Linked DNA regions of Homo sapiens: region 1 is linked to region 2. Evidence: fine-mapped expression QTL. A gene starts in region 2. The other region holds a variant in brackets. All regions are shown on one strand. Distances are from middle to middle. Region 1 has its middle 3.4 kb from the start of TM4SF5. Region 2 holds the start of PSMB6 (proteasome 20S subunit beta 6).

The links. PIP is the estimated chance that this variant, and not a neighbour inherited with it, causes the effect.
Region 1: its variant is fine-mapped to the expression of PSMB6 in monocytes after LPS (Quach 2016, PIP 0.95).

What each region holds. Positions count from the first base shown.
Region 1 is chr17:4,765,833-4,771,205 of GRCh38, reverse strand. No RefSeq gene overlaps it. Among named protein-coding and RNA genes, the nearest start is that of TM4SF5, 3.4 kb to the left of the region's middle. The variant G/A (reference allele first, on the strand shown) is at 2,089.
Region 2 is chr17:4,792,991-4,798,363 of GRCh38, reverse strand. It overlaps PSMB6 (proteasome 20S subunit beta 6), which reads right to left and starts at 2,200. Exons shown (of 6, transcript NM_002798.3): 1 at 2,068-2,200; 2 at 1,569-1,636; 3 at 795-926; 4 at 553-682; 5 at 211-355; 6 at 1-84. The coding sequence starts at 2,169. RefSeq lists enhancers at 1,887-2,416, 1,843-2,441.

The DNA.
Region 1 (5,373 bases), 27 kb after region 2:
AATAAATAAATAGATAAATAAATAAGTGATGCCACTTGCCTTGTGGGCTACTTGTGAGGATTAAATGGGACAACCTGAGAAGTATTTTGTAAACTAGGAAGCACAGAGCAGATGTGTGGTGGCCTCTTCGTTTCTGCCAGCCTCTCAGGCAGCATTCTTCCCAGGGAGAAATTAAAGAGGTGATTGTGGGCTCTTATTGTCCTTGCATTTCGTCTTCCTGGTATTTGATTATTGATGTCTCCTCCTCTTGAGGCCACTGCCTGTCTCTCAGGGTGGGCTCGGGACCTAGGCCTCATTGATGAGAGCGTTCTATCCTGCTAGCCTCGGTGTTTGATTTAGCAACAGCCATGCGATCTGAGCCAACTCTGTGAGAATCAGCTTCTGCCATTTTTCCATTCTGAGGTCAAAGAAGTTCTGTTTTTGTTGGGGTGCTGCAGTTTCCTTGATAACTTCTTTTTTTTTTGAGACGGAGTCTCACTCTGCCGCCCAGGCTGGAGAGCAGTGGCGTGATCTTGGCTCACTGCAACCTCCGCCTCCTGGGTTCAAGCGATTCTCCTGCCTCAGCCTCCCAAGTAGCTGGGATTACAGGCGCCCACCACCACACCCAGCTAATTTTTGTATTTTTAGTAGAGACGGGGTTTCACCATGTTGGCCAGGCTGGTCTCAAACTCCTCACCTCAAATGATCCACCTGCCTCAGCCTCCCAAAGTGCTGGGATTACAAGCATGAGCCAAGCCACCCAGTCGACTTCTTTTTTTTTTAATTAAAAAAATGTTTTTGAGACCAGGGTCTCCCTTTGTTGCCCAGGCTGGTGTGGAGTGGATCATGGCTCCCTGCAGCCCTGACCACCTGGGCTCAAGTGATCCTCCCACCTCAGCCTCCCGAGTAGCTAGGACTATAGGTGTGTGCCACCACACCTGGCTAATGGTTTTTTGTTGTTTTTTTTTTGAGATGGAGTCTTGCTCTGTCACCCAGGCTGGAGTTTAGTGGTGTGATCTCGGCTCACTGCAACCTCTGCCTCCTGGGTCTCAGAAGCAAACAGGAGAGTGAAGGCCCCCACAGAATGAGCCCTAGCTCAAGTAGGATGTGGGAGTGCCATGAAGAGATGAGGGTAGCAGGAAGGGCTGCAGGGCTTCAGAGGGTATGCAATGAGGCTGTCACCTGGAAAGTGTCACCAGCCAGTGGCCCCTGATGCAGCCCCTCCTTGCGGCCCACTCAGACCACTACAGAAATGTGGAAAATGGAGAAAAGCCAGAATCTCTGCTATTTATAAGACAGAGGAACTGGATTGAGAAAAATACATGGAGAATTTACCTCTTGAATCAGAGGATGCCTGAAAAAGAAAATACTTTGAACCTCCCCAACTATTTGTCTCTGACTCATAGGTAATTATGATGACTGATACATTTGGTTTTGCTTCTGTTGGCATGTTTAATGCTTTAAACAACATTTCCATATTGCTTCTGATGTTTTCTGTTCCTCTTCTTTTTTGTTTTTTGAGACAGAGTTTTGCTCTTGTTGCCCAGGCTGGAGTGCAGTGGTGCGATCATGGCTCACTGCAACCTCCACCTCCCAAGTTCAAGCAATTCTCCTGCCTCAGCCTCCCGAGTAGCTGGGATTATAGGCATGCGACACCACGCCCAGCTAATTTTGTATTTTTAGTAGAGACGGGGTTTCTCCATGTTGGCCAGGCTAGTCTCGAACTCCCGACCTCAGATGATCCCCGCCTCGGCCTCCGAAAACGCTGGGATTACAGGCATGAACCACTGCGCCCAGCCTCTGTCCCTTTTCTTTAAAGATTTTACATTATCCTTTTTTTTTTTTTTTTGAGACAGGGTCTCTGTCACTCAGACTAGAGTGCCATGGTAAGATAATCATGGCTCGCTGCAGCTATGACCTCCTAGCTCAAGCTGTCTTCCCACTTCAGCTTCCTTAGTAGCCAGGATTACAGGCCCACACCACCACACTCAACTAATTTAAAAAATTTCTTTTGGCCGGGCGCAGTAGCTCACGCCTGTAATCCCAGCACTTTGGGAGGACAAGGTGGGCAGATCATGAGGTCAGGAGATCGAGACCATCCTGGCTACC[G/A]TGGTGAAACCCTGTCTCTACTAAAAATACAAAAAAAATTAGCTGGGTGTGGTGGCAGGCACCTGTAATCCCAGCTAGTCGGGAGGCTGAGGCAGGAGAATTGCTTGAACCCGGGAGATGGAGGTTGCAGTGAGCCGAGATTGCACCACTGGACTCCAGCCTGGGTGACAGAGGAAGACTCCATCTAGAAAAAAAAAAAAAAGATACAAGGAAAAGGGTCACATTGGATCCCACCCTAGATCACCTGACCCCCAGCCAACTCCTATGTGTGTATCAGTGAAATAAATGCTTATATTTATTTGACACTAAGACTTCGTCGAGGGGGATGGTTTGTTGCCCAGTAACAAGTTCCTAACACAGACCCCCTTATCTAGGCCAGGGCTGGTTGATTGAGGAACAAGTAGCTGACCCAAAGGCAGACATGTAGCCAGCGACCTGTGAGGTCTCTCGAGGTGAGAACTCCATCCAACAGAGGTACACTGACTGGATAATGACCAATCCACCGACTGGATCTTCATGATTGGGAAATGTGTCTGTGAGACAAGCTGAGACAGTCATCAGAGAGTGGGGTGGCTTCAAACTGAGAGTTGTATGCAAGAAAGAAGCAATCAAAAGCCAGAGGCAACTGACACCAGAAATAAGCAGAAGTCACAGCAAGAGAAGTGTATGGAGAATAGTTACTCTGAAACAGCGCCAGAGGGAGAAGCACAGGCACTGGAAAACTCTGGTTCCTCAGGAGGTGGCCGATGAGAGGTTGTCACCAGCACTAATGTTGAACTACCAGAGCAACTGTCATATCCCGAATAGTGGCCCTTCCAACCGTGGACCTGAAGAGGGGATTCAGCCATTGATCTGATGGACAGAGAGCAGGGCCAAGAGCTGGCCACCTATTTGTCTACAAGTTGCTCAAGCTGATTCTGAGAGATGGTGCCTCTTTTTTATTTTTTTTTAAACAGAGTTTCACTCTTATTGCCCAGGCTGCAGTGCAGTGGCGTGATCTCGGCTCACCGCCACCTCCGCCTCCCGGGTTCAGGAGACTCAAGTAGTTGGGATTACAGGTGCCCGCCACCACGCTTGGCTCATTTTTGTATTTTTTGTGGAGATGAAGACAGGGTTTCTCCATGTTGGCCAGGCTGCTCTCGAACTCCTGATCTCAGGTGATCCACCCACCTCGGTCTCCCAAAATGCTGGGATTACAGGTGTGAGCCACTGCGGCCAGCCAAATGGTGTCTGTTTTGAGGATGAATAAAGAGAAAAAAAATAGTTGTGTGGGTGGGGTGGTCCACAGGCATTCATTACATTATTTTTATACAATTCTGGATGAATGAAATAATGTTAATAATGTTAACAAAACATTATAGGGATTCTGAAAAATTTTCTCAAAACCAGGGAAGGGCAAATCAACCTGAAGACTGAAAGAAACAGAATCCTCTGGAGGAACATTTACTATAGGATTTGGAAGAGATTTCCAGGAAGATTTTTGATGACATCACTAGAATTCTCCTGGAACTAGGAACAGAATAACTTAAGAAAGAAAAGGCTGGCCGGGCGCGGTGGCTCACGCCTGTAATCCCAGCACTTTGGGAGGCCAAGCTCGGTGAATCACCTGAGGTCAGGAGTTTGAGACCAGCCTGGCCAACATGGCGAAACCCCATCTTCACAAAAAATACAAAAATTAGACAAGTGTGATGGCAGGCACCTGTAATCCCAGCTACTCAGGAGGCTGAGGCAGGAGAATCGCTTGAACCCGGGAGGTGGGGGTTGCAGTGAGCCGAGATCGCACCATTGCACCCCAGTATGGGCAACAGAGCAAGACTCCATCTCAAAAAAAAAAAAAAAAAAAAGGTCCAGGCTCAGTGGGTCACGCTTGTAATCCCAGCACTTTGGGAGGCCGAGGCGGGCAGATCACCTGAGGTCAGGAATTCGAGACCAGCCTGACCAACATGGGGAAACCCCGTCTCTACTAAAAATACAAAAATTAGCTGGGCATGGTGGCGGGTGCCTGTAATCCCCGCTACTCAGGAGGTTTAGGCAGGAGAATCGCTTGAACCCGGGAGGTGGAGATTGCAGTGAGCCAAGATCACGCCATTGCGCTTCAGCCTGGGTGACAGAGTGAGACTCTGGCTCAAAAAAAAAAAAAAAAAAATTCAGGAAACTGGCTTCTCCTAAGAACAAGAATAGAACTGGTGGAAGTGACACCACAGTTAAAACATCTGCACTAGGAGAAGACGTCACTGAGCGCAGATAGATCCACTCAGGTCAGTGGGTTGAAAGTTATACTGCACGGCAGGTAAAATATTAAAAGTCAGCTGACCATAGATTCATCCTGACAAAATATCTGAATTAAAGGATACATCTAGGCAGAATTTAAAAAGGCTACTTAGAAAGAAACAATAGTTGGTGTGGCCAGAGTCTTCTCTGAAATACTGAATGTCAGAGGACAAAGGAGTAAGGCAGCTGTGTCCACCAAAAAAGGTAGAACTATCATATACATGTCTAAGTTGCATTTTGTATGTTAAGGGCAACACAATTGCATTTCTGAGAATGTTTGGATTTCAAAATAACACTTTGGCTCCTTTTTTTTAGAGAAATTGTGTTGACTCACCAAGAGATGAAGTAAAATAAAAACCCCAAAATGGGGAAGTCTTGACGTAAGTCTAAATAAATTTCATATATCTGGTTACAAAACTGGATGCACATTTTGGAAAAAAATATTTTTCTTCTCTTTTGTTTTGAGTCAGAGTCTTGCTCTGTCATGCAGGCTGGAGTGCAGTGGCGTCATCTTGACTCTGCAACCTCAGCCTTCTGAGTTCAAGCGATTCTCCTGCCTTAGCCCCCCAAGTAGCTGGGATTACAAGCATGGGCCACCAGGCCTGGCTAATTTTTATATTTTTAGTAGAGACTAAGTTTCACCATGTTGGAGGGTGGTCTTGAACTCCTGACCTCAAGTGATCCACCTGTCTTGGCCTCCCAAAGTGCTGGGATTACAGGTATGAGCCACCACAACCCGGCCAGAGCCATTGTGCCCAGTCTCATTTTTTTTTAAAGACAGTGTCTCACTCTGTTGTCCAGACTGGTGTGCAGTGGCATGATCTTGGCTCACTGCAAACTCTATCTCCTGGGCTCAAGTGATCGTCCTGCCTCAGCCTGCCAAGTAACTGGGACTACAGATGTTCACCACCCACCATGCTTGTCTAATCTTTTTGTGTGTATATATGTAAATATATATATATATATTTTTTTTGAGACAGAGTTTCACTCTTGTTGCCCAGGCTGGAGTGCAAT
Region 2 (5,373 bases):
GCCGCTCTACCCCTGACTCTGCAATGGCTGCCAGGCGGATCACTCCTCCACTGGAGCCATCCCGCTCCATGGCCAAAGCGAGAGCTGTGGATAAAAGAAGAAAGCTGGGTTCAGATTCAGATGCCGGGATCACTGCAAGGAATGAGGAATGCTGGCCTGGCTTGGGTAGTTGGGGTTGAAGCTCATAGGCCCAGAAGCCTAAGCTCTCACCATTGGCAGTGAATTGCAGACACTCTTCCTTGGTCATGCCTTCCCGGTAGGTAGCATCAACATAGCCATAGATGTAGGAGCTCCCGGAGCCTCCAATGGCAAAGGACTGCCTTACCATCATACCCCCCATAGGCACTGAGTACACCTGCCAGATAGAAGGAGAGGAGTCACCAGTCGTATCCTCCCTCCAACACACGTACATTCACCTGTCCATTCTGCTATTGGTCTGAGGCACGTTAATAGTAAGAATAAGTGAGGTAGAGACTGGAAAGAAAAAGAAAATGGCTGGGGAGAGGATAAAAGTCCTGGCTCAAGTGTGCTCTGGTCGGGTGGGGATCTGACCTGCCCTCCTTCTTGAGGGTCCCAGCCTGCGATGATGATTCCCGCCATCAGGTCTTCCCGGTATCGGTAACACATCTCCTTAAAGAGGCTGGCTGCTGTGTGGACCAGTGGAGGCTCATTCAGTTCAATGCTAGAGGGTCAGGGAAGTCACAGAGAAAGTTTCAAGACCTAGAAGTCAGGCTATTTAGCTCCTCAGCTTCCAACTCCCTTCAGATACTTGCCCCTCCCCTGCCCACAAGCACCTGTGGAAACCGAGCTGGTAGGTGACAGCATCAGCTACTGCCTGGGTATCAGCAGCTGAGCCTGAGCGACAGCAGAAAATGCGGTCGTGAATAGGTGTCAGCTTGTCAGTCACTCGATTGGCGATGTAGGACCTGCAGGATGGCAGAATAGTGAGGAAAGGAGCCCACCTGTCTTCCACCTCCATCCCATCACTACCCACTCTCTTAGGGCTCAGGGATAGGATGTCCAGTATTGCCTTTTTTTCCTTTTTCTTTGAGATGGAGTCTCGCTCTGTTGCCCAGGCTGGAGTACAGTGACGCGATCTCTGCTCACTGCAACATCCACCTCCTGGGTCCAAGCGATTCTCTAGCCCTAGCCTCCCAAGTAGCTGGGACTGCAGGCACGCACCGCCACGCACGGCTAATTTTTGTATTTTTTAGTAGAGACGGGGTTTCGCCATGTTGGCCAGGCTGGTCTCGAACTCCTGACCTCAGGTGATCCACCCGCCTCGGCCTCCCAAAGTACTGGGATTACAGGCGTGAGCCACCGTGCCTGGCCTCCAGTATTGCTTATTCTCATCCAAACTGAAGCGGGCTGGAGAACAGACTTTTGTAAGGATTCCACTAACGAGTGAGGGGAACTGAAAGTAACAAAAGTTGGGACAAATCTTTATCTCCAGAGAGAGAAGAAACCTCTCTTCCCACAGTGGTCTGTGGAGGCAGGCAGGGTGGGCTGGCAGGCAGGAAAGGAAAAGGAAGATGGGAAGACCTTTCACAAATCTGTCCTGAGCTCACCCAGTGGTTGTTCTGGAGTCCGCCCCCAGAACCACGCCCCCGTCAAACTGCACGGCCATGATAGTGGTCTGGGAAAAGGGAAAAAGGAGTAAGTCTACATTCTCCAGCAGACACAAACCTCAATGATCTCTCTACCTAGTTCCAAAAATACAAAATCTGTCCGTCGCTGAACCATTTTCAAATCTTATAGGGGCCTCAGCACCCCGCAGAATACCAGAATGCCAACCCTCAAATCTCAAAAGACTCATCCCGTACTTAAGCCCAAGATCCTCACTAGCCTCGCAGGATTTCAGAATTTCAAACTTCAGCCCACCCTCCACCTCCCACTACGAAGCTACCGCACCACTCCACCATCTTCGGGGTACCTCTCCCCATTCCTGGAGCACAACACATTCCACCTCCTCTCCACCCCTGCCAGATCTCTCAACCCCACTCAGGCTTTATCTTCCCATCGCGTCAGGCCTTGTGCACGTCCTATGAACCCCGATTCCTTCCTCACCCCAGTGGAAACTTCTCGGCTTTCCCAGTCTGGAGTGAACGCCTCCGGCCCCCAAGCCGGTGCTGGCCCGGCTCCCCGAGCAGCTAGTAAGGTAGCCGCCATCTTTCTCCTCCGGTACTGCCTCAAAGCAACTGTCGTAAAGCGCTCTGTCACGCTCTTTGGTCGCGCTTTGAGGCCTTCTGGGAGCGAAGCTACTCCGAGGTTGACGGCAGAAGGGAAAAGAAAAGTACAGTACTGCATGGGGACGGTTCTTTTGCGACAGTGAGCACTTGATGGCAGCGTGGCAAGCAACAAACAAAACAAGAAAGTCAGCAAAACCCCCCCCCCAAAAAACCAAAAAAAACCCAAAAACCGTTCGGCACTTTGGGAGGCTGAGGCGGGCGGATCATGAGGTTAGGAGTTCAAGACCAGCCTGGCCAACATGGTGAAACTCCTTCTCTACTAAAAAATACAAAAATTAGCCGGGCGTGGTGGGGCGCGCCTGTAATCCCGGCTACTGGGGAGGCTGAGGCAGGAGAATCGCTTGAGCCTGGGAGGCGGAGGTTACAGTGAGCCGAGATCACGCCACTGCACTCCAGCCTGAGCGACAGAGCAAGACTGTCTCAAAACAAAAGCAAAAACAAAACAAAACAAAAAACAGTCCTAGTGGCTTGCGCCGTACCGATCTTATGGAGTTACAGTCCAAAGGGCCCACAAAATAAACCTGAGAGTCTTTGGGCTAAAGTGACCACACCATGTTTTCATTTCTTTTAGTTATATACTTAGGAGTATATGCTGGCAGAGGAATTTATGGGTTCTATGATAACTGTATGTTTAACATTTTGAGCAACCGACAAACTGTTTTCCACAGAAACTGCACCATTTTACATCCCTACAAGCCATGTGTGAGGGTTCCAATTTCTCCACATCCTCACCAACACTTGTTATTGTGCATTTTTTTAGTTATAGCCATTCCAGTGGGTGTGAAGTGGTACCCTGTGGTTTTCATTGGTATTTTTCTAATGATTAGTGATGCTGAGCATATTTCCATGAGATAATTGGCCATTTGTATGTCTTTTTTGATGCAATGTTTTTTCAAGTTCTTTGCACATTCTAAAATTGGGATATGTCTTTTGTTTAATATATTTTTGGGGTTTAATTTTTTTTTTTTGAGACGAGGGTGGGGTGTGTGTGTGGGGTGGGTTTGTCTTGCGGTGTTTCCCAGGCTGGAGTGCAGATGGGATCATGGTGCACTATATCAGCCTCGAACTCCTGGGCTCCAGTGATCCTCCCGCCTCAGCTTCTCAAGTAGCTGGGACTACAGGTGTGTGCCACTGAACCCAGCTCTATTTGTCTTTTTTTTTTTTTTTTTTTTTTTTTGAGACGGAGTCTCGCTCTGTCGCCCAGGCGGGACTGCGGACTGCAGTGGCGCAATCTCGGCTCACTGCAAGCTCCGCTTCCCGGGTTCACGCCATTCTCCTGCCTCAGCCTCCCGAGTAGCTGGGACTACAGGCGCCCGCCACCGCGCCCGGCTAATTTTTTTTGTATTTTTAGTAGAGACGGGGTTTCACCTTGTTAGCCAGGATGGTCTCGATCTCCTGACCTCATGATCCACCCGCCTCGGCCTCCCAAAGTGCTGGGATTACAGGCGTGAGCCACCGCGCCCGGCCTCTATTTGTCTTTTTATACTGGTGTGATCTCGGCTCACTGCAGCTTCCGCCTCCCGGGTTCCAGCAATTCTCTTGCCCCAGCCTCCCAAGTAGCTGGGATTACAGGCATGCGCCACCATGCCCGGCTAATTTTTGTATTTTTATTAAAGAGATGGGGTTTCGCCATGTTGGCCAGGCCGGTCTCGAACTCCTAACCTCAGGTGATCCTCCCGCCTCGGCCTCCGAAAGTGCTAGGATTACAGGCATGAGCCACTGTGCCTGGCTCTATTTGTCTTTTTATTGTTGAGTTGTAAGGGTCCTTTTTAATATTCTAGGTACTAGAAACATCAGATACATGATTTGAAAATATTTTCTCCCATTGGATTGTCTTTTCATGTCCTTCATTGGTGTTCTTTGAAGCATGAAAGTTTATAGTGCCAGCTCTTACATTTTTAGGTCTGTGGTCCATTTTGAGTTAATTTTTGTATGTGATGTGAAGTAGAAGTCCAAATCCATGCTTTTGCATATGGATAGTCAGTTAGTTGTTCCAGCACCATTTGTTGAAAAGACCTGCCGGGTGCAGTGGCTCACGCCTGTAATCCCAGCACTTTGGGAGGCTGAGGCAGGCGGATCACGAGGTCAGGAGACTGAGACCATCCTGGCTAACACGGTGAAACCCCTCTACTAAAAATACAAAAAAAAAATTAGCCGGGTGTAGTGGTGGGCGCCTATAGTCCCAGCTACTCGGGAGGCTGAGGCAGGAGAATGGTCTGAGACCAGGAGGCGGAGCTTGCAGTGAGCCGAGATCGGGCCGCTGCACTCCCAAGCCTGGGCAACAGAGCAAGACTCCGTCTCAAAAAAAAAAAAAAAAAAAAAAAGACTGTCTCCCCATTGAATGATCTTGGCACCCTTGTTAAAAATCATTGACCATACATGTATGGACTTACTTCTGGATTCTCAGTTTTGTTTCATTGATCTATATGTCTATCCTATGCCAGTATCATATTGTCTCTATTACTGTAGCTTTGTAGTACTTCTTTTCTTTTCTTTTCTTTTCTCCTTTTCTTTTCTTTCCTTCCTTCCTTCCTTCGTTCTTTCTTTTCTTTTCTTTCTTGACAGATCTTGCTCTGTCACCCAGGCTGGAGAACAGTGGCGTGATCTTGGCTCACTGCAACTTCCACCTCCCAGGTTCAAGCAGTTCTTTTGCCTCAGCCTCTGAAGTAGCTGCGACTACAGGCGCCTGCCACCACGCCAGGCTAATTTTTGTAATTTTAGTAGAGACGGGGTTTCACCATATTGGCCAGGCTGGTCTCAAACTCCTGACCTCGTGATCTGTCCGCCTCGGCCTCCCAAAGTGCTGGGATTACAGGCGTGAGCCACTGCGCCCGGCCCTTTAATTTCTTTTAACAGTGTTTATAATAGTTTTCAATATATAGGTCTTGCACTTCTTTGGTTAAATTTGTTCCCAAGTATTTTATTCTTTTTGATGCTGTTATAAGTGACATTGTCTTCTTAATTTCATTTTTGGATTGTTCATTGCTAGTACATAGAAATACAACTGATTTTGGTTTTGATCTTGTATTCTGCAACTTCATTGAACCATTTATTAGTTCTTTTTGTTTGTTTGTTTGTTTTGTTTTTGAGACAGTCTTACTCTGTTGCCCAGGCTGGAGTACAG